4 linked regions of the Homo sapiens genome follow. The protein of the gene in region 3 interacts with the protein of the main gene of each other region in a pairwise test. Each region holds a gene or a part of one and is shown on either strand. Other genes may lie near its edges. The genes, in order: FADS2, GUCD1, ZNF655 and HPCAL1.

Region 1 (7,027 bases), on a different chromosome or scaffold from region 3:
CTGTGCCCGCGGGCCTGGGGCCCTGGACATCTTAAGAGAGGCCTCGGGTACTTAACCGAGCTGCAGGAGGGAGACCCGAGCTTTGTAACAAAGCAGGCCTCTCTATGAAAGGGTGGACCAATGGCAGCCGTCAGGGAGAGTGAAGCCAGGCCGGGAGGGTCAGGGGCCCTGCCCGACTAGGACCTGCCCCTATGAACCCCAAGAGCATCTGAAGAACCAAAGCGGGGGTGATGCCTAGTGACCAGGCTGCAAGGGGAGACTCACAGGCCAGACCCATGGACCGCTGGTCTCCTCCCATCTTTAGGGGCAGAGAGTGGAGGTAGGACAGAGCCACCCCCGGTGGCCACCTCTCTGCTCCTTGGAAGAAGGGGCTAGGAGGCACTGGGAGGGCCATGGCTGATGGCTGACGGCTGAGGGAGGGCAGGTCCCATGAGGGCAGGGTGCTATGGGGGAGATGTGAAGAGAAAAAGGAGAGGAGAAAGGGAGAAAGATCCAACATGGGGTCCGTGAGCAGTGCATACACCAGCCTCTCGGACACCCCTCAGAACAAAAGCCCATCATTCCTCTGGCCATCACCCCACCTGCACCCCTTCCCCACGGTGTCCCGGGGGCTGTGGCTTCATTTGTGAAGGTAGGCGTCCAGCCACAGCTTCCCAGACTTCTTCAGGGACCTGCAAAGTTGGGGATGGACCAGGGTCAGGGACCAGGACGGGAGTGGCCCCAGGGAGTGCAAGGGCTGAGGAGGCCATCATTAAGGTGGCATGTATGTCCCCTTGGCCCTAACCAGGGCTTACCACTGCCACTGGGCCTGTGGGGCTGTCAGCTCAGAGCCCACCAGGAACCCCACACAGAAAGGGATGGTCTTCTCGCAGCCCAGGGAGAAAAGCCCAACAGCTCCTAACACAGGCTCGGGAGTAAGGCAGGTGCCCTGGTGGGTGACTGTGCCAGGAGGGCCCAGCCCCTCTTGTGATCCCACTGTCTGCACCACGGGTGATCCCAGGGCCCAGCGCCTGTGGACCTCCACCCCTCACCTGATGATGTCCAGCAGGGCCCTCAGTAGCGGCTTCTCCTGGTATTCAATGCCATGCTTGGCACATAGAGACTTCACCAGCGGGGCGATCTTGTGTAAGTTGTGCCGGGGCATGGTGGGGAAGAGGCTGAGGAGTGTGTAGGGTGGGCAGAGCGTGAGGACTCAGAGGGCCATGCTGCTCCCGCTTCCTCCCACCACCTGGGCAGAGGCTGGCTGGGGCCCTCAGAGACCCTGTCCACAGCCAGGACCAGTCTCAAAGTGTGGCTCCTCGTGTGTGCCCAGTGGGGTGCCACGTGTGTGGAGGGGAGGGTGCAGCCCTCCGTGAGCAGGAGGGCGTTTGTGCTCTATGGAGCTGGGAAGATATTGGGTGGCCAGAGACAAAGTGTCATGTTTTTCAAAAAAGAAATGAAATAGCTGGGGAATGCTAGGAAAAGAGGCAGTGAGGTGAGGCACGGTGGCTCACGCCTGTAATCCCAGCATTTTGGGAGGCCGAGGCAGGCAGATCACTTGAGGCCAGAAGTTTGAGATCAGCCTGGGCGACACGGCAAGACCTCTTCTCTACAAAAAATAAAAATAAAAAATTAGGCCAGGTGCAGTGGCTCACACCTGTAATCCCAGCACTTTGGGAGGCCAACGCAGGTGGATCACTTGAGGCTAGGAGTTTGAGACCAGCCTGGCCAACATGGTGAAACCCCGTCTCCACTAAAAAATACAAAAATTAGCTGGGCGTGGTGGCACACGCCTGTAATCCCAGCTACGTGGGAGGCTGAGGCCTGAGAATTGCTTGAACCTGGTAGGTGGAGGATGCAGTGAGCCGAGATTGCGCCACTGCCCTCCAGTCTGGGCAACAGAGTGAGATTCTGTCTCAAAATAAATAAATAAATAAAAGTAAAAAAAAAAAGAAAAAATTAGTTGGGCATGGTGGCACGCACCTGCAGTCCCAGCTACTCAGGAGGCTGAGGTGGGAGGATGACTTTAGCTCAGGCGTTCGAGGCTGCAGTGAGCCAAGAAAGCACCACTGCACTCCAGCCCAGGAAACAGGGTGAGACTCTGTCTCTACATTTTTTATTTTTTAATAAAAAAAAAAAAAAACAGTGACAAGAGGTGAAGCAAGGACAAGGGGCAGCAGGGCAGTCCCTCGGCCGATGTTCCAGGCAAGCTACGTAGCCCTGCCCTGCTAGCCTCACAGGGTCATGAGGTGCGTGTGCAGGCTCCATAACTACAAAGTCCCAGGCCCACATGGAGGGAGGTGGTAACCACTATGACCAAGTGGCACAGCATGAGGGGCACAGGATGACCCTCAGGGAGATGGAATAGGGGAGCCCCTCTCCTGACCTCAGCGGGGCTGGCTGGGAGCCTTGCTCTATATTGGGCAGAGACCTTGTCAGAGAGACAAAGAGGTGGCCCCCACATTCTGCATTCTGCCCAGTGGGATAGCGGCCACTTCCCTCCCGCTGTGGGTCTCCCCGCCTCCCCGCAGCCCCGCGCTCACTGGTGCTCAATCTGGAAGTTAAGGTGTCCACTGAACCAGTCGTTGAAGAAGGACTGCTCCACGTTGCAGGTGGCTGTCAGCTGTCAGTGGAGGGGATGAGTGTCAGGGAACAAAGGAAGGCCCAAGGGCCCGGCCTCATTCCCAGGGGGCCCAGCCTTACCCAGGGTCTCCAGGCCACCCGTCCACATCATACCGTCCTGCCTGATGGCCTCAGCCCACCCAGATGCCCCACCTGTCCCTCTGGGGGATTCCTGCTGCCCTTTCTTGCTCAGCCCTGAAGCTCCCAGCAAAAGGACACAGGCAGCCCCGGGAGGCCCAGCACAGCCCTGTGTTAGCAGGTGCAGATCATCTGGGGCCAGGACATGGACATTGGGACCAGGCTCTGGTGACCGGCCCTGACTTCCCTACCTGGCTACTGAACCAGTCACGGTAGGCCTCCTGGTCAATCTCCATGACGATGTGATTCATCTGTGTGACCCACACAAACCAGTGGCTCTCCAGGAACCTGCAAGAGAACACAGCTCAGCGCAGGGGCCTCCGGGGGCCCAGCCACAGTGGGAACAGATCCACTCTCCCAACCAGCCCAGGACAGCCCCTGCCAAGGGGCCAGGATGGGAGGTCCCCAGGCAAAGTGGAGCCGTCCGAGCCTCTTCTCATGCCAAAGCCATCATCAGTGCCAGTGGAGGGCCCAGGGATGAATCAGCAAAGCCCAGGCACCTGATGAAGTTGAGGAAAAGGAGGGCTCCCAGGATGCCGTAGAAAGGGATGTAGGTGATGAAGAACCGGATGTAGTAGCTGACGGCCCAGGCCAGGTCCTGCGGGGAAAGATGAAGTTAGGTGCAACCTGCCCTCTCCTCTGCCCTGGCACCAAGTGCGTGCCCCAGATGTGCACACACCTCACACTCAGGCCTCTAGAAGCTGGACCGCAGCCCACTGAAATGCAATGGGCAACTACACGCCACCTGCTTGCTCGGGGTTTGCATGGCTGCCTTTGTTTCTAGGGAAATGCTGAGTGTTTTAGCATCAGGAAGTGACTGTGCCCTGTTTTTCGGGAGAGAAACGGACCCTCCTGCTGAGGGGCAGCCATGGGGTAGGGGTGGGGGTCAGCAGCCCTCTCGTGGGGCAAGGGCGATTCTGAAGGTGCGCCCCCAACCCGGGGCCAGGTCCCCAACCGTCCCCCAGTCCTGTCCCTCCTCCTCAGCACCTGGGTCTCCTCCTGGCATCTCCTTCCAGCAGGACAGAGGGCTTGGAGGGGTAGGGAAGGTCAGAGGTACCATCGTCCCTATCTCAGAGCTCTCACAGCAGAGGCTGGCCTCCCCACGCCCCACTGTCATCCTGTGTCCCTCCACTCTGCTCTCCTCCCTGCCTCTGGCTGGACTGGTGTCAGGGACTGGGCTTGGACGTCTTCTCTCATGTACTGGGAGGGTGACTTCACGGCTCCACCCTGTCCACTGTCTCTCTGCCACCCAAGTCTTGTCTCAACTGGACCACAGCATCAGCTTCCCACAGTCTCCTGCTTGTCCTCGTGGCCATGGCAACCAGAGTGGCCTTCGCTCCAAGCAGGTCCCAACTCTCCCCTGCTAAAGCCCCCATCCCACCCAGTCACCCACGGAGCCTCATGGGGTTAAGAACCTGTCTTTACTCAGCCCCCTGACCTAGCTTACTCCCTCCCCGGGGCCTCTGCATGGCCTGTTCCCACTGCCAGGGCGCTCATCCTGCCATGAGTTTAGGTATGGTGACATGCCACAGGCTCAGCACAGGTGTCCGAGGTGGAAGGTGAGGCCAAGGGACTGCCCTGTCTCACTTCAAACGACTGAAGAACAAGGTCACATTTGTGTCTTAAAATAGATCCCCACCCACTGGAGAGGGGGAGACTAGGAAGTTATTCCAGCGGCTCAGACATGAAATGACAGAGGCCTAAACCAGAACCCACGGCACTGACAAGGAGGTGACAGATTCCAGAACTGTCAGAGGCAACGGTGGCTGCATTTGTGCCTGCTTGGCTGTGGGGAATCTAGGCTGGTCCTAGGTGATCAGGGGTCGGGTGCCAGCAGCTGAACAGGAAAGGAGGAAGGGAGCGCTCAGGAGAGGCTGGAGATGGCCTTGGGGCCAACATTGGCCGAGGGCAGGACCTCACGTTCCAATAAGGTGGCCTTCAAGGTGAGGAGGGAGGCAGATGTAGCCAGTTCTGCTCCCACTTTCCATCACATTCCTTCTATTCTGTGTGTGTGGTGCAATAGTGTGCAGTGTATCTACACATATATGGAAACAAAATGAGGATGGGGTTACGGATTATTTTTTTTTGGAGATGGGATCTTGCTTTATTGCCCAGGCTGGAGTGCAATGGTGTGATCATGACTCTGTCCCAGGCTCAAGCCATACTTCTACCTCAGCCTCCCGAGTAGCTAATTTCTGTTTTTTTTTTTTTTTTTTGAGAGGGAGTCTCGCTCTGTCGCCCAGGCTAGAGTGCAGTGGTGTGATCTTGGCTCACTGCAAGCTCCACCTCCTGGGTTCATACCATTCTCCTGCCTCAGCCTCCCAAGTAGCTGGGTCTACAGGTGCCCGCCACCACGCCCGGATAATTTTTTGTATTTTTAGTGGAGATGGGGTTTCACCGTGTTCGCCAGGATGGTCTCGATCTCCTGACCTTGTGATCCGCCTGCCTCAGGCTCCCAAAGTGCTGGTATTACAGGCATGAGCCACTGTGTCTGGCCTTACCTGGATAATTTTTTTTAAGTTTTTATAGAGATGGGGGGGTCTCACTTACTTGCCCAGGCTGGTCTCGAATGCCTGTGCTCAAGTGATCCTCCAGCCTTGGCCTCCCAAAGTACTAGGATTACAGGTGTGAACCATTGCCCTGGCCCAACTTTTATTTTTAAGAGACAGGGTCTCACTCTGTTGCCCAGGCTTGAGTGCAGTGGTGTGATCACAGCTCACTGCAGCCTCAAACTCCTGGGCTCAAGCCATCCTCCTACCTCAGCCTCCAAAGTAGGTAGATTACAGGCGCGCATCACCACGCCCAGCTTTTTGTAGAGACAGGGTTTCGCCCATGTTGCTCAGGCTGGTCTCAAAACTCCTGGCTTCAGGTGATCCCTCCCACCTCAGCCTCCCAAAGTGCTGAGATCACAGGCGTGAGCCACCATGCCTGGCCTGGACTTCTTTTGAGTGTAGAGAGCAACACATACACAGAGATCGCTGGTTTCAGGGGCAGAGAGCCCAAGAGATCAGAAGCAGCCAAAGAGGCGGAGCGAGGGGGTTGGGAAGAAGCCAGCAGAGGTGGGGACCTGGAAGCCAACAGGAAGAACTGCAAGAGGGAGTGGCCAGTGGTGTCAGATACAGCAAAATTCCAGGAGGGTGAAGCGTGGGAGCATCTCAGGATCCAGGACGTGGCCCCGGGAACAGGGAACCTTGCCAGAGCATGTAAATCTCCCCGGGAAGCCTCCTTCAAAGATCTTAGGGTTTGTCACCTCTTTCCTCTAAGCCAGGGTCCCCCAACCTCCACACTATTGGCACCTGGGACAGGCTGCTTGTTGTCATGGGCGGTTCTCCAGGGCATGGCAGGGTGCTAAGCACCATCCTGGCTAGACGCCCACCAGATGCCAGTAGCACCCTCCTCTCCTGAAGTTGTGACAATTAAAAGTGTCTCCGGATACTGCCAAAGGGCAGAACAGCTCCCCTGAGAACCAGTGCCCCAGGTCATAGGTGCGCTCCTGGCTCTGAAAGCCCCATGGGCTCATCACATTGTCCCCACTCTGCCATCCCCTTTTAGGAACATAGGGTGATTTCTTTTCCTGTTTAATACTTTGTTCCTTAGGGAACAAGCACAGTCAAAAACAAACAAAAAAAAGAAGTTGCTCACTGCAAGCTCCGCCTCCCGGGTTCAAGCAATTCTCCTGCCTCAGCCTCCTGAGTAGCTGGGACTACAGGTGCACACCACCATGCCAGGCTAATTTTTTGTATTTTTAGTAGAGACGGGGTTTCACCATGCTGGCCAGGCTGGTCTCGAACTCCTGACCTCATGATCTGCCCGCCTCGGCCTCTCAAAGTGCTGGGATAACAAGCATGAGTGACTGCGCCCGGCAATAGGCCACTTATGAGTTAGAACGGGATTGGATGCTAGAGGCAAGGAGAGGGTGTAACATGTATAAGGAGGGAAAAAACATAATGGTGCTAGTCTCTAACTTGAGCCACTGGGTGGATGATGGAGCCATTCATTAACATGGAGACCATCAGGATTAGGTTGTGGGAGAAGAGGAGAGGACTTACATTGAATATGTTGGATTTGCAATGGCTGGGACACCTCCAAATGGAGTTAGATTGGATATATGGGTCCAAGACTTGGAGATAAAATTTGACTTGGCTGCTCTTAAATTCACAGTCAGGGTGAAAAGGACAACTTCAGTTAGCAAGCGATAAAACAGTAATCAACAGGCCGGGCGCGGTGGCTCACGCCTGTAATCCCAGCACTTTGGGAGGCTGAGGTGGGCAGATCACCTCAGGTTGGG
Region 2 (5,228 bases), on a different chromosome or scaffold from region 3:
AGCCGGGCGTGGTCGTGTGTGCCTGTAATCCCAGCTACTCAGGAGACTGAGGCAGGAGAATTGCTTCAACCCAGGAGGTGGAGGTTGGAGTGAGCCGAGATCGCACTACTGCACTCTTGGTCTGTCTACCTCAACCCCAACTCTGCATGCTCTGAGCAGCCAGCTCCACCCAGCACTCACCATCCCACCCACTTTCGTCTCTCCTGCTTCAACATCTCCCTCATTCTGTTGTGTCTCCTGTAGTTGCATTTGTTGCAGTTCACTTGAGCTGAGCCCCGAGGCCCTTCTACCTCTAGTACTGCCTGTCCAGGACAGGCACAAGCATCCAGGCCTGAACGGGATGGATATGGCCCTAGAAAACAGAAAACAGGATTCCAGTCCCAGCTAAACTGGGTATGGCAAGACAAGGACCTGGGTTCCCATGTGCTCATGCTGAGAACTTGAGAAGGGACAGGAATTCTGCAGATCAACACAGCTTCATAAAGGCCAGCCAGGGGCTACCACCATTTTGCAGTGAGAATAATGTTTATTGAGAATGGCTCATTACAAACAAAATATATATAAAATCTCTGCAATGCAAAAGATCCCTTTCATCCCCGTGGCTAGAATGAACAAAGCCCAACTGTCCCACATGGCTTCAGGTGCTGTGCTGGTCCCCAGCATGTGAACAGGCTGGGCAGCTGTCGGTGTCATGTGCTGTGGGCAAAAGTCCCTGATGTCCAGGCTCTCTGGCTCCATTTTCATGACTTGTGCAAGAATGCAACACAGTGTGTCTTACATCCTGCCTCTGTGACCCTCCCTAGGCAGATGAGTCTTGAGAATGGGCAGCTTTCTCATTCATCTTTCAGGAAGGTGACCTTTAACTTGTGGCATGCCCTGAGAAGCCATCCTCTGGGACCAGAGACTGAGTGTTTCTAAACATTTTGGCTGGACTGAGGTGCTGTTACCACCCTCCATGAAGGCCACTCCCTAGTGACAGCCCTAACAGCATGTGCACTGTCTAAATCACATCCCACCATCCTGAAAACTTCATTTCCTCCCACTGGTTTCCTTCATACAGCTATTCTAACAATTTTACCAGAACACCACCTGAAGATGCCCACACCCCACAGCTGCTGTGCATGGGTACTCCTGGGCCACCTGGCATTAAGGCAATGGAGATGAGACCAGTCTAGAGCCAACACCGGTCTCTGAAACCCAGAAGGGCTGCCCAACTAACAGCACCTCCCTCTTGGCCAAAGGCTTTGTCTAGGGTTGAGAAGCAATTTGGCTGGGTGGTCTCACTGCCCTCCTAAACAGAGCCCACCTCTGCCCCCAGAGTCATCTGTGCTCCAAAGCAATGGGCGGGGGCACAGCTGCCACCATGCCATGCCTTGGGCATTGGAAGAGCAGGACCCAGGAGTGCAGGGATGGTATCACTGTTGCCCCTTTGAAAATGACCCATTTCCCACTTTGGGAGGCCGAGGCAGGTGGATCACCTGAGCTCAGGGGTTCGAGACCAGCCTGGCCAACATGGCGAAGCCTGGTCTCTACTAAAAATACAAAAAAATTAGCCGGGCATGGTGGCATGTGCCTGTAGTCCCAGCTAGTGGGGGGCTGAGGCAGGAGGATCGCTTGAACCCAGGAGGCGGAGGTTGTAGTAAGCCAAGATCGTGCCACTGCACTCCAGTCTGGGCAACAGAGTGAGTCTCCGTCTCAAAAAAAAAAAAAAAAATCCATTTCCTTTAGTTTTTTAGGTGCAGACTGGGGTTCAAGACCCAGCTCCACCACTGTCCTGAGCAGACTCCCAAGACTGGGCCAGCTGCCTCGTCAGCTGCCTCGTCTGAGAGGTGAAGGGGCAGGTACTTAAACCACTGGCCAAGTCCCTTTCTCTGAAAAAGAACTTGAGCTGGCTAACTGCCCTGTGCAGAGGTGTTAGTGGTTCCAAAGTACCTTCACTCTTGCTATTACTGTTTTACTTGAAGGTGATTACCCCTCAAAAATGAAAACTTAAATCTCAAAGAAACAACCCCTGACCCCAACCTCCCCAAAAAAGAGGAAGGAAAGAGCTCTATGCTACTTGCTGTGTTGTAAGATCCTGGGCAGGAACCCCTCTTCTCCATCAAGATAGACAAGACCCAGTATCCTGTGCAATCTGGTGTGAAGACCAGGTTGGGTGGGCAGCTGCAGGCTGCCCCAGCCCGTTGCTTTGGAGCACAGGCCTTAGCAGCCAACCTTAAAGGACTAGGGGCTCCCCACACTCAAGAGGGCAGACCCTGCTGTCAGGATTTTGGCTGGTGTCAGGAGGCCTCCTGGGTGCAGGGATCCCTCTGGGGCTAGGGCAGCTGTTTATTCCCAGAGCACTGCTGCCAGCCACGAGGCCTACCAGTGGGATCTAGGCCCGAGAGCCCTCCATCTGACAGAGCTGGAGGACCTGGAGGGCTGTGGGGGCTTTAAGAGTCTCCAGCGGCCAGGGCTCTGCATGGCAGGGCAGCTGTGAGGTGTGTCTATGCTGGGTGGCAGGGGTCAGATGCCCTGTAATGAGCCACAGAAACTTGGGCCCATGGGTAGGCAGGTGGTGGTGGTATCATCAACCACTGGGCACAGGGGCATATGCAGCACTTCCAGGAGAGAGGGGCCTGGAGGGGTCCTCAGCCCTGGGGGATTGGGGTCAGCTATGCTGTCTCCAGACACTCACATACTGTCCTGACAAGTGGCATCCGTCAAGCAACTTCTCTCTCCAGGCTCAGTCCTGCGGTCTGTGGGGAGACCATTGCCATGGATCTGGCTCAAAGGCAACAAGGGCACTGTCGGGACTGGACTTCCTGTGGGCGCAGCTGGAGTCAAGGCTTGGGGTCTTGGGGTATGCTTCCAGCAGCCAGCAGGTGCTTGGGGTGAGTGACATGACAACACACGGCACTGGCAGACAAAGCAGCTGTGCCAGTCTCCGAGTTCCTGGGACTCTGCCAGATGGGCTGAGGCTGCAGTTCCACATTCCAACCCCAGCAGCCCCAAGCCTGGGCCAGGGCATCCTGAGCGGGCCCGGCTGGGGTGGGGATGGGGTCCGAGGGCCTAGGCGCACCAGGCTCCTGCTGTCAGCTGTCCAAGTAGACAAAGAGGATGTCCTCATCTGTGCCATAGCTGGTTCTGGCCTCCTCAAAGTTACTGATGCTGGTGCTGCACATTCCTGCTGGGGGTGGGGAAGGCAGAACGGGGTCAGTGGGTTGTGAGAGAGCACCTACACCACCGACACAGTGCCCAGGGGAGCTGAGTGAGGTCTGTTTCCCATCCACATGGCCATTCCTCTCAACTCAAGTCCTCCACCCCCAGGAAGCCCTCCTTGCCCATCCTGGTCTTCATGAGGTTTCTCTGACTCCTCCCCAGTAAAGCAGTTGGAGAAAGGCCCAGAGAGGGGCAGAAACGTGCTCCAGGCCACATAGACGGGGTAAGTCTATGTGGTCAGGGCGTCCAGGGGCTGTCTATGTGAATCCAGTCTATGAGAGTCAGGGCAGCCCTTCCCTGTGCCCGGAGGGCAGTAGGCAGGCCAGGATGGGTCTAGAGCAGGGGCTGGGTCTGGCCGGGCTTTTCTTTCTGAGGAATGTGCCGGCCATCCTGGTGGTTGGGGGAGGGGTGCAGCCTGGGCAGCATGAAAGGGTAAGGCAGGGACCTGGGCAGTGGCGTGGGGCCTGTGGTGTGAGAGGGAGGGGTGGCCAGGGTGTAGAGGAGGCTGGCACAGTTTGCGGCAGGTTTGCCTGCATGGCCTGAGGGGTGGCCACAGTGACAAGAGCCCAGGAGGAGCAGGGGCTTTGGGGAAAAGGTAGGGAGGGAGGCCCTGGCCACACTAGATTGAATGGGTGGGAACTGTGGGCACTGGGCATACAGAACAGTGAATGTGGACCACTCTGCCTCACCCACCCCACCCAGCACTCACGGTCGGCATAGGCTGGGTTGTTGTAGAAGATGCAGCCAGTGGCCCGGTTGTAGCCACGCAGCACGATGAAGTGGCCCTGGTAGTCAGGAGTGCGGCAGAAGCAGTGGTGGCCACTGGGGGTGAAGCAGCAGTACTTGACAGGGCTGGAGCACAGGTCACAGTGCAGCACCCCCGAGTTCACCAGCACGATGGCCACATGGCCCTGAGCCAGGTGCGCCTGGATGTCCTTCACACTCACTGTGCTGTGGGCGGGAGGGGGGTCAGCTGGTGCTGCTGGGCCCCCATTCCCCATCCCTCAAATGGATCCCTGCTTGTGCCTGTTTCTCTGTTACAAAGCTTGGGGATCGGCTCCTTTTCCCTTTGCCCTGAACTCCCTGCTCTGTCACTGTGGCCCAGGCTCAGCCTAGAGCCAAGCAGGAGACCGGTGGGGGGGGTGTGTGTGTGTGTCTGAATGTGCACAAAGATGAGCTGGCTCTGTCAGGCCCTTCACGGGGAGAGCATTCAGCTCCAGGTGGGTCCAGTCAAGGGCCACTAGAGCAGCACACAGAAACCATCCTCCTACTGCACCCCAGCCTGGTTAGTGAATTCTTTTTGCCCAGCCCTGTCTCTCCTCTACCCTAAATCATGTGTGGTTTACATTGAAAACTGCCAGCCAAGCATGGCTCAGACACTTTCAAAACCAAATGCTTCTCTGAAAGAGCTATTTTACTTTTTTTCTAAGGCTCCTGGTGGCAGAAGGGGCTGCCCAGGAAGGGCTGGGCCACATTGCTTCCAGGGGAGCTCCAGTTCAGCAATGACATCTACCTGGAGCCTCCCTCACTGGCAGAAGGCACTGCCCCATCCTGTGCCTTCCACTAGGCAGCAAATCCAAATGAAAACCTAGAGCAGGGCTGGGCACAGTGGCTCACACCTGTAATCCCAGTGCTTTGGGAGGCCAAAGCGGAAGGATCGCTTGAGACTAGGAATTAGAGACCAGCCTGGGCAACACAGCAGTACCCTGTCTTTACAAAAACATTTAAAAATTTACCAGGCGTGGGGCGTGGTGGTATGAGATTGTGGTTCCAGCTACTCGGGAGACTGAGGCAAGAAGATCACTTAAGCCTGGGGCTGTAGCAGTGAGCTGTATTGCAATATTGCGCCACAGCACTACAGCCTGTATGACAGATTAAGACCCTGTCTCTTAAAAAAAAAAAAAAGAAAAGAAAAGAAAACACCCAGAGGGACAGAGGGCAGATGGGGCTGTGGGCAGGGGGAGCTCTAGGCCAGGGGCTCCTGCATCTTTGCTGGAGGGGCTGCTCACCCACTTGGGGCCTTCCTT
Region 3 (7,941 bases):
CTTGTATTTCACTTTATCTTCATCACATGACAGTCCTCTTACAGAAGAGTAAGACTATACCTGTTTTGCAGATGGGCAAAGCAAAGCATAAAGACTTGTGGGGACTTGTCCTGGGCTAGGGTTATTTAGCAGACTTCTGACCCTTTCCAGGCACTGTTCTAGACACTTGATCAGCGTTTCTCTTGTGAATGGGTGCTGTCTCAACCAGTGTGTAAGGCCCCCAAGAACAAGAAAGGGTCATCTGTTTCCTCGAAATCTTTTCCACAGTCCCACAATCCCCCACAGCACTCTACACATTGTGGCACTTGATCTGTGTGGGTGACACACAAGTTATTTCAGGCACTAGAGTTAACCACAGGCAATCTAAGACACAGCTCTTATAAAACAAAGGAAGAAAAAGACCAACCTACCTATACGATACAGCAAAGTGTGACTGCGTAGTCAAAATACAGTATATATACATTCATACAGGCATTGTGTTCAACCAAGGAATTAAATGGTTGCTTCCTTGACCAAATTTAGTCTAGTCACAAAACACTGCAGTTACAACAGAATGGATGGCAGGTGACAAAGCAAAGAAAAACTAAGTGAAGGGAACAGGGGAAAGAAAGGTCCTGAACCTAAGAGGAAGTGAGAGCCAGGAAAGGACTGTGAGATGTGGCAAAAGCAGCATATCTTAGAAATTATTCTGGATGTGAGAACTGGGATGAAGTGAAGGTTGCCTGAAGGAAAAACCACCACAGCGAGTAAGCAGCCATCACTCTGCTTATTTGAGAAAGATGAGCTATCCTTAATAAAGGGGCTCAGACTAGGACTGAACTGAGTCACATCTGCCCCCTCTTTCATTCCTCCCTCTAGGGACCATGTTCTTATTCCAGTTCTTGGCCTCTCTCAAACCAGGCCCAGGAGCCCCCTCGGGAGCCCCTCCGCACTCCCACTCTCCCAGACGGAAGTGCTTTCTCTGCCTTACCCCCAGTGAGTCCCTGTTCCATGTCGGTGTCCTGCACAAACTGAGGCTCTGGGGACAGACACTCAGACTGGGTCTCCAAAGACTGAAACTGGACCCTTGGTGACCCTGCTGCTTCCTGGGCTGGTATTTCCTCCATCACTGCTCTGGAGGACAATGACCATCACTGCAAGGTAAGATTAAGAGAAATTACTGTAATAAGTTAAAGCATTTCATCATTTTATATCGTCAGGACTTTGCAAAGGATCTTACACACTATGGATATTCAATAAAAATTAGTTGATAATGATTAACCACCCTAAATAAGTAACAGAAAAATGGGGCCAGGCGCAGTGGCCTGTAATCCCAGCACTTTGGGAGGCTGAGGCGGGAAGATCACTTGAGGTCAGGAGTTCAAGACCAGCCTGATCAACATGGTGCAACTTCTTCTCTACTAAAAATACAAAAATTAGCCAGCGTGGTGGTGCGGGTCTGTAATCCCAGCTATTCGGGAGGCTGAGGCAGGAGAATTGCTTGAATACAGAAGGCATACGTGGCAGTGAGCCAAGATTGCACCACTGCACTCCAACCTGGGCAACACAGTGAGACTCCGTCCCAAAAAAAAAAAAAAGAAAAAAAAGAAAAAGAAATATGGATATGCTTCAGCTTTAAATACTTAAGAACCAAATCATAGAAGAGTCTCTAATTTGGAATTTGTGGCATTAAAAAAATTAACACGGTACAATTTAATAGTGTAAAGCTTTCTGTGGAAACTTTAAAATATTTAAAATTGGCCACGTGCGGTGGCTCAAGCCTGTAATCCCAACAGTTTGGGAGGCACAGACGGGTGGATCCCTTAAGCTCAGGAGTTCCAGACCGTCCTGGACAACATGGTGAAACCCCGTCCCTACAAAAAAAAAAAAAAAAAAAAAAATTAGGTGGCCCAGGCCTGTAGTTCCAGCTACTCCAAAGGCCAAGGCAGGAGAATCGCTTGAGCTTGGGAGGTAGAGGCTGCAGTGAGCTATGACTGCGCCACTGCATTCCAGCCTGTATGACAGCGTGACAGCCCACCTCAAATAAACAAAACAAAATATTTAAAATTTACAATCGTCTTTGGAGGCTCAAGTTGGTGCCCAGAGAAAAATGCTAGTTATGATTGCTCATTTTATTTTAATTTTGTTTTAGCAGAGATGGGAGTCTCGCTATGTTGCCCAGGCTGGACTCGAACGCCTGGCCTCAAGCGATCCTCCCACTTCGGCCTCCCAAAGTGCGGGGATTACGGCGTGAACCACCGTGACAGGCCCGCGTTTACGTAAATAAACTCATTTAAATAAATAAAACAGCAGGCCCCCTAGGAAATGTCTTGGTAACACCGTCAGCCCACTCCGATTTACTACACGGGCTTGGCGAATAAAACTCCACTTTTGGGGTCAGGCCCTTCGCTAACTCAGACCAGCTAGACCGGCCTTTTCCCGGAATCCTGAGAGCAACGCAGGTAAGAGCTGCGGTTCGAACAGGTTTGAGCGGCGTCCTTCAGGCCCAAGGACGCATGAGGGTGCCGTCCCCCTCCCACCACCCTCGCCCTGGGCCCCTGCCCGGCTCCCAGCTCGGTCCTCAGAAGGCCTTGCCCGGCGCTGCCCTCCTCCCACTTCCCTTTTAGGCCAAGGCAAAGTCCCAAAAGGACCAGTGAGGACATACAGACCAGCTCGCACCAGGGCACGGTCGCCGGCTCCTGACGGCGGGGCCCTCGGTCCGCGAGGTGAATGAACCAGGGCTGAAGAGAAACAGGCCCTCCTCGCACCCGGGCCTCCGCGCACTCTCGGGGAAGCGAACTACCGTCGGCCGCGGCCGGACGCCGCCTCCTTCTACTCCCGTGAAGGCAAAACAAGCTGCCACCCCGCTGCGACCCCAAAACGGCTTCCGGGTACTCACCGAGGGGAGGGGCGGGCCTGGCCGCTGTCCTGTCACCTACACACTCGCGCTCGGGGCCACCACAGCCTCTCCCGGGCCGCTGTAGACAGCCCCGAGGCCGGCGCTTCTCGGTGGCACTTCCGGCGACGGAGTGCAGGGTCCCGAATGAGGGCCCCCCCTCCTCCGCCCAGGCATGAGGGTCCCGGATGTGGGTGAGAGCCCCGGATGAGGGTCCCGGATGTGAGTGAGGGCCCCGGATGTGAGTGACGGCCCCGGATGAGGAACTCGGAGGAGGAGCTGGGCCCGCGCGTCCATGATTCGAAGGCTCGTTTTCGCAGCTTTTCCACGTCTTTTTCCGGTCCCACTGCCCTCCATGCTAACTCACTGGGCGTCTCTAGCCGTTATACCAACAATGACTGCGACCAGTGTTGGGAAAGCGCCCCCTGGGCCCCTCCCTGACGCCAGCCCATCCTTGAGACTCCCTGCAAGGAGGCGGCCCGACCCAGTGGGTGCGTGTCGTGGGGTGAGGAGGAATGGCCGACCTAATGGTCCCGCTTCCGTGAGTAGCACAGGGGTGCCTGCTCAGAGTGTAGTACAACGCTGACAAGTAGAAGGCGAGGATTGCGGGGCCTGGGTGAGATGGGACCCACTAAGTTGTGGGATCGAAATCTCAGTAGGTCCTTGGGGAAAGCGGGGACGGGAGGGGAGATGAGCAGATTGGAATAGAACCGAGAGAGACGGAGGAAACTGACAGTTGCGTCCCTGGTGGGAAGACTAAAATCTATGCAGAAACAGGGATAGGCAAAAGCATTGTGCACAAGCGGGACAGGCAGAGCGCCGGGACAGAAACCCTTAGGACATTCTGACACCTTGCTGAACCTGGATCCTTACAGAATATGTCTTGTAGGTGAAGCTAGATCTGCAAGGCATAGGCAAGCCTCTTAGAGAATCAGAAAAGTGATTTGGAAGGAACTTCAGCTGTTACTACTTTGTTTAAGCAAATCAAATGCTGTTCTTTAATGTTACTGGACGTTTCAAATTAAACACAAGAAAACCTGAAGTGTGGCATTTTATATATTTTTTCAAAATGTATCAGCTTCTTGGAGATTCTGATATTCCTTTCCTCTCTTTATCCCTAAGTATCATTTATCCAACCTAAATTCATACTAGGACACAATCTCTCTAGTCTGCAGTGCCCGTCACAGTGGAGTCAGGATCGGAGAAAGAAAATGCACTGCTTAGTCCATTTCATGCTGGACAGCTCCAATTAGAAACTTTTCCTTGTGTTGAACAGAAATACACCCCTGGTGATGTCTATCTATTGTTCCTGTTGACAGGTCCCCAGGACAATAGATGACACAGTACTTCTTCCTCTTCATAACGGCCATTTTAATATCCTAGGAGAGCTAAAGGTTTGGAGTTCTTCCTGAGTTGCCATTTCCCCACCTAGAACCCTTCACAGGTTGTACCTATTAGCAATGTGATGGGAAACCATTTCAGCAGCAAAGGTGAGTGAGCTATGGCAGTGAGGCACATCGCGTCCAAGTTTTAGCTGACTCAGGCAATTGGCTCCAGTGAGAGGACCACAAAAGGTACCCACTTAAAGAGGCCACTTCCCACCAGTACTCATCAAAACATAACAAAGTGTTAAGAAACAGCAGCTGCTATTTTGCTTTTGAGCAAAATTTTCTTTTAACAGTTTGCCAGATGACAGAGGTGGAAACAACTCAAAAAATTGTTACCTTTTTTCGTTTTTGTCTTTTTGTTGTTGTTGAGACAGAGTCTTGCTCTGTCGCCCAGGCTGGAGTGCAGTGGCGCGATCTCAGCTCACTGCAACCTCCAGCTCCCAGGTTCAAGCATTTTCCCTGCCTCAGCCTCCAGAGTAGATGGGATTACAGGTGGGCACCACCACACCTAGCTAATTTTTGTATTTTTAGTAGAGATGGGGTTTCACCATGTTGGCCAGGCTGGTCTCAAACTCCTGACCTCGGGTGATCCGCCCGTCTTGGCCTCCCAAAGTGCTGGGATTACAGGCGTGAGCCACTGCACCGAGCCTGTTTTGTTTTTTTTAGTGCAAATTAACAAACTGATTCTAAAGTTTATATAGAAATGCTAAGGATTTAGGATTGCCAAAACAATTTTGAAAAAGAATAAAATTGGAATACTTGTATTTTTTTAAGATTTTTTTCCTAAAGGTACAGTAATCAGGATGGTATGGTATCAGCATAGAGACAAATAGATCAACAGAGCAGAACAGAAAGTCCAGAAATATGAGGTTGAATTTCTTAAAGAAAAAAAAGTCCAGAAATAGATCTAGATACATACAATAGCTGATTTTTTATAAATTACTAAGGTAATTCTGCATCTAGCTAAGCTGAAAATTAGGCCGAGGATCTGTTTGTAACAGTGACAGTAATGTAAAGGAGACCAATTGTGCAGACTCGGCAGGTCCCCTGAGTCAAAGTCGTGGCTCATACAGGGAGAGGGTGGGATCCTGAGACCTGTTCTCTGTCACAGTGTAGTCCGCAGGAACTTTACCCAACCATCATGATGGTCCATATATTGATGACAAATGCTAGTAGTACCCAGTGAGCAGCAAGTGACAAGGGTCATAAATATCCTAGTAAGACTTCTTACTAAGGCAGTACAGAAACCTGAAGATATGGGCACTTATCAAATGGATGAAGTTTTGGTGGGGCCCAGTGGTTTGGGGACATCACCCAAAGGTAAAAGAAAGTTGTTCCACCTTGCACCCTCTAATCCCAAAAAAATTGGTACAGGTCCTGGTGGGCCCCTTTGGATTTGGGAGGTAGCATATTCTGCACCTGAGAAAACTGTTCCAACACATGTATTAGGTGACCTAAAAAGCTTCCACTTTTTATTTATTACTATTTTTTTTTCTTGACACGGAGTCTTGCTCTGTAGCCCAGGCTGGAGTACAGTGCCGTGATCTCGGCTCACTGCAACCTCTGCTTTCTGGATTCAAGCAATTCTCCTGCCTCAGCCTCCCTAGTAGCTGGGATTACAGGCGCCCGCCACCATGCCCAGCATTTTTGTATTTTAGTAGTGGAGGGGTTTCACCATGTTAGCCAGGCTGATCTTGAACTCCTGACCTCAAGCAATCCACCCACCTCCGCCTCCCAAAGTGCTGGGATTACAGACGTGAGCCACCATGCCTGGCCAGCTTCCACTTTTTATTGGGGCAAGAGAGCACTCTATAGTAAATCCAAGCAACAGTGCAAGCTTACTTGCAAATTCAGTGGTTCCAGAAATATCCTTGATGGATACAGGTGCTGTATGGAGTTGCTGGCAAACCCCAATAAGAGTGTGCATTCGTGTGCTAGGGCTCCTATAACAAAGTACCACAAACTGGGTGGCTTAAACAACAGAAATCTGTTGGTTCACAGTCTGGAGGCTAGAAGTCAGAAATTAAGGTGTGGTTCCTATTGAGGCTGTGAGAAGGAATCTGTCCATGCCTCTCTCCTAGTTTCTGGGGATTTGCTGGATATATTTTGCATTCCTTGGCATCGTAAGAAGCATTTTCCCAGTCTTTACCCTCATCTTCATTTGGCATTCTCCCTGTGTACTATCTCTAAACTTCCCTTTTTTATAAGGATACCAGTCATTAGATGAGGGACCCACCCTAATCCACTATGACCTCATCTTGAAGTAATTACATCTGCAATGCCTCTATTGCCAAATAATTTCACATTCTGAGGTATTAGGGGCTAGAACTTCAACCTGTTAATTGGGGATGAGGTGGAGGTACAATTCAACCCATCATAAAGAGTCACAGCACAAATACCTAAGATTCTGGAGCAAGGTCATGCCTTCTAAGGCAAAAAAACAAAACCCACGTTTCCAAACTCCCAGGTCAGTTACCTCTGCTCTACTGCCACCTCTCCCATAAACTTACTCCTATGGCCTTATAAAAGTTCCCTACAACTAACTGATGGAGACAGAAGAGCCTTGGCCTCTGCACAGATTGGGGATTGGGTCAGTTCAGCATGTTGGCATCTTCCAGAAACAGACTGTTCTTCATTACAGCCCCACTCGCGTTGCCCTGAAGCATACTGGTGAAGAAAAATTATCTCAGTGAGCAATGGTACATTTGGTCACCCATGCCATATTTTGGAGGAGGTAGCCTAAGGTAGGGATATGCATTGACTCCTAGGCAGTGATGAATGGCTTGGCTTGTTGGTTAGGGACCATCTTATTGTTTATGCAATAGGCTTATGAACAGAGACCATGGTAGCAGGGATAGAGGCTGTGCGTGGTCCCAACAATATGGGCTACCTCTTATTTTTCTTTTTTTTTTTTTTTTTTTTTTGAGACGGAGTCTCGCCCTGTTGCCCAGGCTGGAGTGCAGTGGTGTGATCTCAGCTCACTGCAGCCTCCACCTCCCAGGTTCAAGCAATTCTCCTGCCTCAGCCTCCCGAGTAGCTGGGACTACAGGCACACACCACCGTACCCAGGTAATTTCTGTATTTTTAGTTGAGACGGTGTTTCACCATGTTGCTCAGGCTGGTCTCGAACTCCTGAACTTGTGATCCACCCACCTCAGCCTCCCAAAGTGCTGACATTACAGGTGTGAGCCACCGTGCCCGGCCAATATGGTCTACCTCTTACCAAGGCTGATGTAACTCTCACCATGGTGGAGTGTCCAGCCTGCCAGCATTAGAGACCAACACTGAGTCTTAGAGATACCAGCTACCACCAGGTTGAGTGCATCAGATCCCTTTTACCTTGGAATGGGCATCAATTTGTTCTTACCAGAATTGATATATGCTCTAAATGAGCTTGTCTTCCCCAACTACTTTGCCTCCAGCAGCACCACCATCTGAGAGCTTACAGGGTGCCTTATCCATTGACATACCTGAAACTAAGGAACCCACCGATAGCCAAGGAGGTGTGACAGTGAACTCGAAGCTACAAAATTCATGGTGCATACTCATCATCCAGAAGCAGCTAGCCAGATAGGGTTTTGGAATGGCCTGTTGAAGACTGGGCTAAATTGCGATTAAGATGTAATGCCTTGCAAAGTTGGGAGCAGTTCTTCAGAATATGGTATATGCGCTGAAATG
Region 4 (6,865 bases), on a different chromosome or scaffold from region 3:
TGTGAGCACCAGCGCTTCAACAGGAGGAAACAGCTCCAGGGTGAAATGGTGCTAGGTGAGTATGGGGCGCCTGGCTGGGGCGTTTGCACCAAGCGAAGTCCAGTCCTTGTCCTTCCATAGACTGCACTTCTAATTCTGCACAGCCCTGTGGCCAGAAAGGGGACGGAGTGTGTCCACGTTCTTGTATTTCACTTAGAATCTATCTCTAGGAGGGCTTGTTGGAAATAAATGGGTCATTGGCTGGAGTTTGGGCAAATCTCTGTTCTTCTGGGGTTTTGACTTGTTCTGGTTTCTCCACAGATCAAAGGACCTTCCATTTATTGGATTCCAAAGACAAAGTCTCCCAAATTGTTATCACACATTGACATTTCTGTTCCACCTTAAAAACAGCATGAAAGTGGGACGCAGAGGGAGCAGGCAAGGCTAGAATGTGCCACCGTGGCACCACATCCCACCGCAAGGGAGAGGCAGGGCCCCCGGGCCTTCCCTTTGCCACATTATCCAATAAAACCTCAAGAGCTCAGTAATTACAGGCACTTTCAAAAGTGAAACAGAAATAGATCTAAGGCCAAAACACTGGCTTGCTTGAGACAAAGGGCTGGCTTTAACTAGAAAAAAACAAAAACAAAACAAAACACAAACCTGGGTTTGGGTCTGTCTTCTGAGCTGAGAAAGCCAGACTGATTTTTTTTTTAATATTATTATGGAACCTGATTATGAGGAAAGAGTAGGATTCACACCAAAAGCCCTTTTTTCTTGTAGGACATAAAATCATTTGATGAAACAGAAAACAGGGTGCATTCTAAGTGTGCCCCTGTCACTAAGTCAGGATGAAAAATGAGAAAATGAGTTCATCGCATCCCCCTGGCCTGCCATGGCTAGGATTGCAGGGCTTCAGTCTCGGCCGAGGGAAACCAAAGGAACCGGACCAGGTTTCTATCCCTGGCTCCTAAAAGCCCGCAAAGCAGCCCGCCTCTCTGGGAACACCATCACGTAGCCCCTGACAGTTGGGAAGCGCATCCATACCAAAAGGCCGCCCATGCTGTCCCCTCCGCAGCCCAACCCCATGCCGGCGCTCCATTTTGAGAGCCTCCTGCACTGGTGAGATCTTGGCTCCCTTGGTTAAAGGCGATTTTTTTCCCCCAGAGAAAGACACCAAGGCGATGAAGGGAAAGAATATCCTTCGCTCTGGCCGAGAGCCACCCGACCCCTAGAGCTGGCCTTGCTGCGTCCGAGCCAGCGCCGAGGCGCCAGAACTCTCCAGAGAGTGAGTCGTGGTAAGAGCTGGGTGCTCGTTCACTGCGGTTCAATTTTACGACTAGTAGGTTTCAAAAGTAAATGTTTTAAATTAAGGTGTGGGACTAGGAGGAGGTGTCCCATGTGGCACCCCCGGCATGAGGCTGGCTGCAAGGGAGCAGGGATGGCAGGGGCTGGGGCTGGGGGTTGTCTAATGCCGAGGCCAGCAGCTGGACTCGGCGTCCCTGGCAAACATCCTCCTCTGGTGGAATTGGGGTCAGCCAGGAGGAAAGGGGTGGCCTTTGGCGGCCGGGACACCCCGGGAGCCCGAGATCTGCATGTGCGGGAAGCGCCAATTTTACGCCGTGACTCTCGGACTCCACGAGCTGAGCTGCATCCTCCCGGACTAGGAACTTGTTGAACCAAAGGGTTCTCAACTCCGCAGTCGCTGCCTCCCGGCCAGGAGAGGGACCCCCACGCTTGCGCGGGAGCCTGGGGGCTGGGGCAGGGCCGGCGCCCAGCGCGGCGCTCTCGGGCACTCGCGGAGGCGGCGCCGCCCGGGAGGTGCTGCAGGAGGCAGCGCAGCTGGCAGCTAAACTTTCTCGAATCTCAGTGCTTCGCGGTTAAGTTAGGGCCAGGGAGAGGCACAAAACACGCCCGGGGAAAATGTAAGGCCCCACCCACGATAAAGGGGAAAAAAAAAGGATTTTAAACAGGAGACGCTAATCCAATTAACACAGTACCTACTGTGTGCGGGGCTTTGGACCAAGAGCTGTCTTCAGTGCGTTCTCATTTCACCTGTCACCACAGCCCCCAAGGGAGGAGCTGTCCTCATTTTAAAGAGAAGCAAACCGCGACCGGGGAAGGTGGCGCGTCTGGCCCAGGTCGCAGTGCGGGTCGCGGGGAGGCCAGGGCTCTCCTCGTCGCCCCATGGCCCTGGGAGGAACGAGCGGATCGCCTCCGCGTGGGCCCCCACCCTTGGCAGAAGCTCACAGGCGACCCACGTGGGCCGCACGGACCTGTTCCCTGAGGGCTGCCCAGCCTGCCCGCGAGGCCCGCCCTTGCCCGTCGGGTCCCAGCTGTCCTCGAGGCTCCTAAGCTACGCACTGCGCCGACCAGCAGGGACAGGGGGCTCTGGGCGTGGGGCTGGACCACCCACACCCACCCCGCCACCCCGCTCTGCGCACAGCTGCTCACACACGACACCCGCCAGGCACCGCTCCCCACCAGCAACTGCGCCCCGACACACAATTCCACAAACGCAGTCCAAAATGTGCACACCTAAGGCACACATGGATGCCCACGAGTACACGCCATTCGAAAGACACACCACCGTCCGCAGTCACCCACAACTCCACCGCGCAGAGAAACGCGGGCACTCCCGGACACACACACGCGCGCACAACACACACGCAAAGAGCCGGATCGCAGCGCTCGCCGGTGCACACGCCGGGTGCACACGCCCGGGGCACACTTCAGCAGCCAGCAGACCGCAGCCCGCCCCTTCCCTACCTGCTCCGGCGCAGGACGCGGTCCGCCGGCTTCCCGAGCCCAAGTTCGGCGCCGGCGGCGGCTGCAGCGGGCCCGGGCCGCTGCCCGGGACAAGCGCGCCGAGGCCGGGAGGAGTGACTAGCAGCGCGGGCCTCCGTGCGCCCGCAGCTGCTGCGCCGGCCCTGCGCTCATCGCCGCCCAGAAAGACAAAAGGAAGCCGGCAGCCAGGGAGGGAGCAAGGTGGAGGCGCCCGTCAGTCCGCCCGTCCGCTGCCCGCCGCCGCCGCGGCCCGCCTGCCAGCTCCGGGAAGGAAGGGACGCGAAGGCGGGACCTGGAGGCGGGACCCGGAGGCGGGGGCCGGGGCGGGGCGCGCGGCCAGAGGCGGGCGCTCAAGTTTCCTACGGCCCCGCCCCCTCCGGGCCCCGCCCCCTCCACGCCCCCTGCCGGACCCTCAGCGCCCGGCTCGGCCCTCGCAGCCCCTGCACCTCGCTGCTCCTCGGCCCTCGCGGCCCAAACCTGGCCCTGCCGGGTCCCAGCCCCCAGTGGCTTTCGGGACAGGGGCGGAGCCGGGCACCGGTTCTGTTCCCCTAACCCTTGGCCTCTGGCCTGCTGGTATAGAAGAGGCCGAGAGGCGGCGCCCGGGAGGGGCCAGCCCTGCGCCCGCGCCCCCCGCCCCCACGCCGCAGGAAGTGGCCCGGGCGGCCTAGGAAGGGGAAGAGCCGAGTTGCCCCAGCCCCGCACCCCCAGCCCCAGCCCCGCGTGCAGCTCGCACCCCTTCCCACGCCTGTTCGGGGGAGAGCCCCGGGCCTGGAGTGGGAAGCCTGGCTCCAGCTCTGGTTACCTGCAGTGACTCCCCAGGCCGTTTAGGCGAGTCCATTGGGCCGCCTCTGCCTCGGTTTCCCCACCTAACCACGGAAGGTGCTCCTCCCTTCCAGGCATCTGTGGTCTTCGAGCTCCACGCGGGAGAGGCGCCGGTCTGGCACCTCCTGCCCAGGGTCGGCGCCTCCTGGCTCTCGGGGAGGGGGGCATCCTCCATCCCCTGCACCTGCCTCGAGAGGAACCAGGGACAGAGCACCCCCACCCCCACCAGGAGCTCCGGAAAAACGGCTTCAGAAGAGCAAATATACACACACACCCACCTCCCGCCCCAAACATCCCCGAAGAAAGGTAACCACAGAAACAGCCAGAAATGTGGAGCTGGGCGATCGTATGAGGCTGAGACAAAACTGTCTTTCTAGCGTCTCTAGGGGAGAGCTTGAATCCCTCCTTCCACTCCTCCTCCACGGAAAACAGAGTGAACTCCTGCTACAGAGGCCGCCAGAGCAACATGCAAGACCAGCTTTGAGGGGAGCGGGCACAGGGCCTTGCAGGGAAGGTGGGCCGAGCCCAGACCCCTCATTCTTACTTGGCTCTGAAGGCGGAAAGGCAAAGCTAGACCTCGAGGAAGTTCCCCTCCCTGTGGGCCCTACAGTGAAGATTACATGAAGGCATGTGGGCGGTGGACCAGAGTGCACCGACTGATGAAGGCGGCCCGGTACCCGCGGGTGCCATGCCTCCTTCTTAGCCAAGGCCACTCTAGCTCCCCGTGAAGTATCCAGGTAGAAGGCTGGTGGGGTTACAGGTGAGAAGCCGTCGGTGGGGTCCAGGAGCCAGGCCTGGGGAAGCACACGTCACTTCCACCCACATCCATGGGCCAGAAGTAGTCGCACAGTCCCACCAGGATGCAAGGGGCTCTGGCAGCTGTGGTCTTCATGAGTGTTTCGGAAGTAAACAAAGCCGGTTTGATGAACACGTAGAAACATCCCTGCCACAGAAACTGAGCAGATTTCTCCCAAGCACACACAGGGCAAAGGGGCAAAGTCTGTCCACAGACTCACAGGAAGGGAGGTGCATGGCAGACACAGGCAGGAGGTGGGGTTGGGGTGGAAAAGTTCAGGGAGGGCTCAAAAGCAGACCAAGGCCTGTTTCTGAAACCCAGCCCACTCACTGGTTCCTCCACACTTGGCCCATGCTGTTCCTCTCCCATGTGACTTTTCCATCTTCCCCCTCCAACCTGTCACCCATCCATCCTTCAAAACTTAGGTCAGTTAGCTCTCACCTAGCCCTCAGCAGCTTAGCCCGCAGATGCTTCCTCTGTTTCTGAACTTCTAGAGAAACACACTTAACCGCAGACCTCTTATTCCAGGAGTGTATCTCTCTCAGATGAGATACAAGTTGGTCCCTTCCCTTGCGTCCCTCCTGTTCCTTCAAGAGGAGGACTGTCTACCCACCCCGAAGCTTCATGGAGAGAGAGCACACCGTCGTTATTCAATATGTAGTTTTGAATTTAACTAGAGCAAAGAAGAAAGCAAATTCAGGTAAGATGTTGTATAATTTCCTGGGGCTAATGTAACAAGCACCTCCAACTGGGCAACTTAAACAACAGAAATGTGTTGTTTTGTAGCTCTGGAGGCTGGAAGTCCAAGATCAAAGTGTTGGCAGGGCTGGCCCCTTTGGAGAGATGTGGGGGGCAGTTTGTTTCATGTCTGTCTCTTAGCTTCTGGTAACCTCATGCATTCCTTGGCTTATGGATGGCCATGTGCGCTCCCTGTGAATTCACATCTTCTCTATATACCTGTCTCTTTTCCCTTTTCATAAGGACACAGTCATTATTGGATTAGGGCACACCCTAATGACCTCATCTTAACTTGATCATCTGTGCAGACCCAATTTCCAAATAAGGTCACATTCACAGGTACCAAGGGTTAGAAGTTCAGCATCTTTTGAGGGAAACAATTCAACCCATAACAGGTGTCATGCTAGATAAACAATTTGTTTTTCATATGATGACTGTAAACAAGACAGAAGTAATTCTGATTGTTCTTAATATCTGACTTAGTTTTATGACAATTTTTTTCTAACTTTTATTATAATATACACATAACATAAAATTTATCATCTTAATCCTTTTAAAGTGAACAGCTCAGTGGTATTAAATACATTAATGATGTGCAACCAGCACCACCATCCATCTCCAGAACTCTTTTCATCTTGTAAAACTGAAACTCTATACCCATTAAATAATGACTACCTCTCTAATACCTTACATAAGTGGAATCATACAGTATTTCCTTTTTGCAACTGGATTATTTCACTTAGCATAATGTCCTCAAGATTCATCTATGATGTAGTGTATGTCCAAATTTCCTTCCTTTTTAAGGCTGAGTAATATTTCCATGTGTGTGTATACCACATTGTGTTTACCCACTCGTTTGTCAAGAAATCATTGGGTTGCATCCACATTTTAGCAATTATGAATAATGCTGCGACGAACATGGGTGCACAAATATCTTTTCAAGATCTTATTTTCAGTTGTTTTGGGTATATACCCAGAAGTGGAATTGCTGGATTATGTGGTCATTCTATTTTTAATTTTTTGAAGAAGCATCATAATAATACTTTCCACAGTGTACCATTCTACATTCTGCCAAACAGTGCACAGGGTTCCAATTTCTTCACATCCTCACCGCCAGCACTTTGTTGTTGTTGTTGTTGTTGTTGTTGTTGTTGTTGTTGTTGTTGTTTTTGAGACGGAGTCTTGCTCTGTCACCCAGGCTGGAGTGCAGTGGTGTGATCTCGGCTCACTGCAAGCTCTGCCTCGTGGGTTCACGCCATTCTCCTGCCTCAGCCTCCCGAGTAGGTGGAACTACAGGCGTGCGCCACCAGGTCTGGCTAATTTTTGTATTTTTAGTAGAGACGGGGTTTCACCATGTTGGCCAGGCTGGCCTCCAACTCCTGACCTCAAGTGATCTTCCCACCGCAGCCTCCCAAAGTGCTGGGATTACAGGCGTGAGACACCGCACCAGCCCGATTTTGCTTTTTGATGCACCAAATTTTTATGAAATCCAATTTGTCTATTTTTCTGTGTTGTCTGTGTCTTTAATGTCATATCCAAGAAATCACTGCCAAATCCAACATTGTGGAGATTTTGCTCCAAGTTTTCTTCTAAAAATTCTATAGTTTTAGGTTACTTTTAGGTCTTTGATCTATTTTGAGTTAATTTTTGTATATGGTGTTAGGTAAGGGTCCAGCTTCATTCTTTTGCATGTAGATATCCAGTTTTCCCAGCACCATTTGTTGAAAAAGCTGTCCTTTTGCC

Evidence for each region.
Region 1: the proteins of ZNF655 (region 3) and FADS2 interact in binary tests that used the Homo sapiens proteins (3 or more experiments, as listed by UniProt).
Region 2: the proteins of ZNF655 (region 3) and GUCD1 interact in binary tests that used the Homo sapiens proteins (3 or more experiments, as listed by UniProt).
Region 4: the proteins of ZNF655 (region 3) and HPCAL1 interact in binary tests that used the Homo sapiens proteins (3 or more experiments, as listed by UniProt).

What each region holds. Positions count from the first base shown.
Region 1 is NC_000011.10:61,859,282-61,866,308, reverse strand, and holds part of FADS2 (acyl-CoA 6-desaturase), read right to left. Parts: intron 3,338-7,027; coding exon 3,240-3,337; intron 3,028-3,239; coding exon 2,931-3,027; intron 2,603-2,930; coding exon 2,523-2,602; intron 1,158-2,522; coding exon 1,032-1,157; intron 672-1,031; coding exon 620-671; 3' UTR 1-619. UniProt on the Homo sapiens protein: Involved in the biosynthesis of highly unsaturated fatty acids (HUFA) from the essential polyunsaturated fatty acids (PUFA) linoleic acid (LA) (18:2n-6) and alpha-linolenic acid (ALA) (18:3n-3) precursors, acting as a fatty acyl-coenzyme A (CoA) desaturase that introduces a cis double bond at carbon 6 of the fatty acyl chain.
Region 2 is NC_000022.11:24,539,932-24,545,159, forward strand, and holds the end of GUCD1 (protein GUCD1), read right to left. Parts: intron 4,153-5,228; coding exon 3,911-4,152; intron 3,170-3,910; coding exon of another isoform or gene 3,167-3,169; coding exon 3,075-3,166; 3' UTR 507-3,074; downstream 1-506.
Region 3 is NC_000007.14:99,553,725-99,561,665, reverse strand, and holds the start of ZNF655 (zinc finger protein 655), read right to left. Parts: upstream 3,025-7,941; 5' UTR 2,879-3,024; intron 2,842-2,878; exon of another isoform or gene 2,645-2,841; intron 1,134-2,644; 5' UTR 1,107-1,133; coding exon 971-1,106; intron 1-970. UniProt on the Homo sapiens protein: Probable transcription factor.
Region 4 is NC_000002.12:10,299,061-10,305,925, reverse strand, and holds the start of HPCAL1 (hippocalcin-like protein 1), read right to left. Parts: upstream 3,023-6,865; 5' UTR 2,749-3,022; intron 2,227-2,748; exon of another isoform or gene 1,984-2,226; intron 1-1,983. UniProt on the Homo sapiens protein: May be involved in the calcium-dependent regulation of rhodopsin phosphorylation.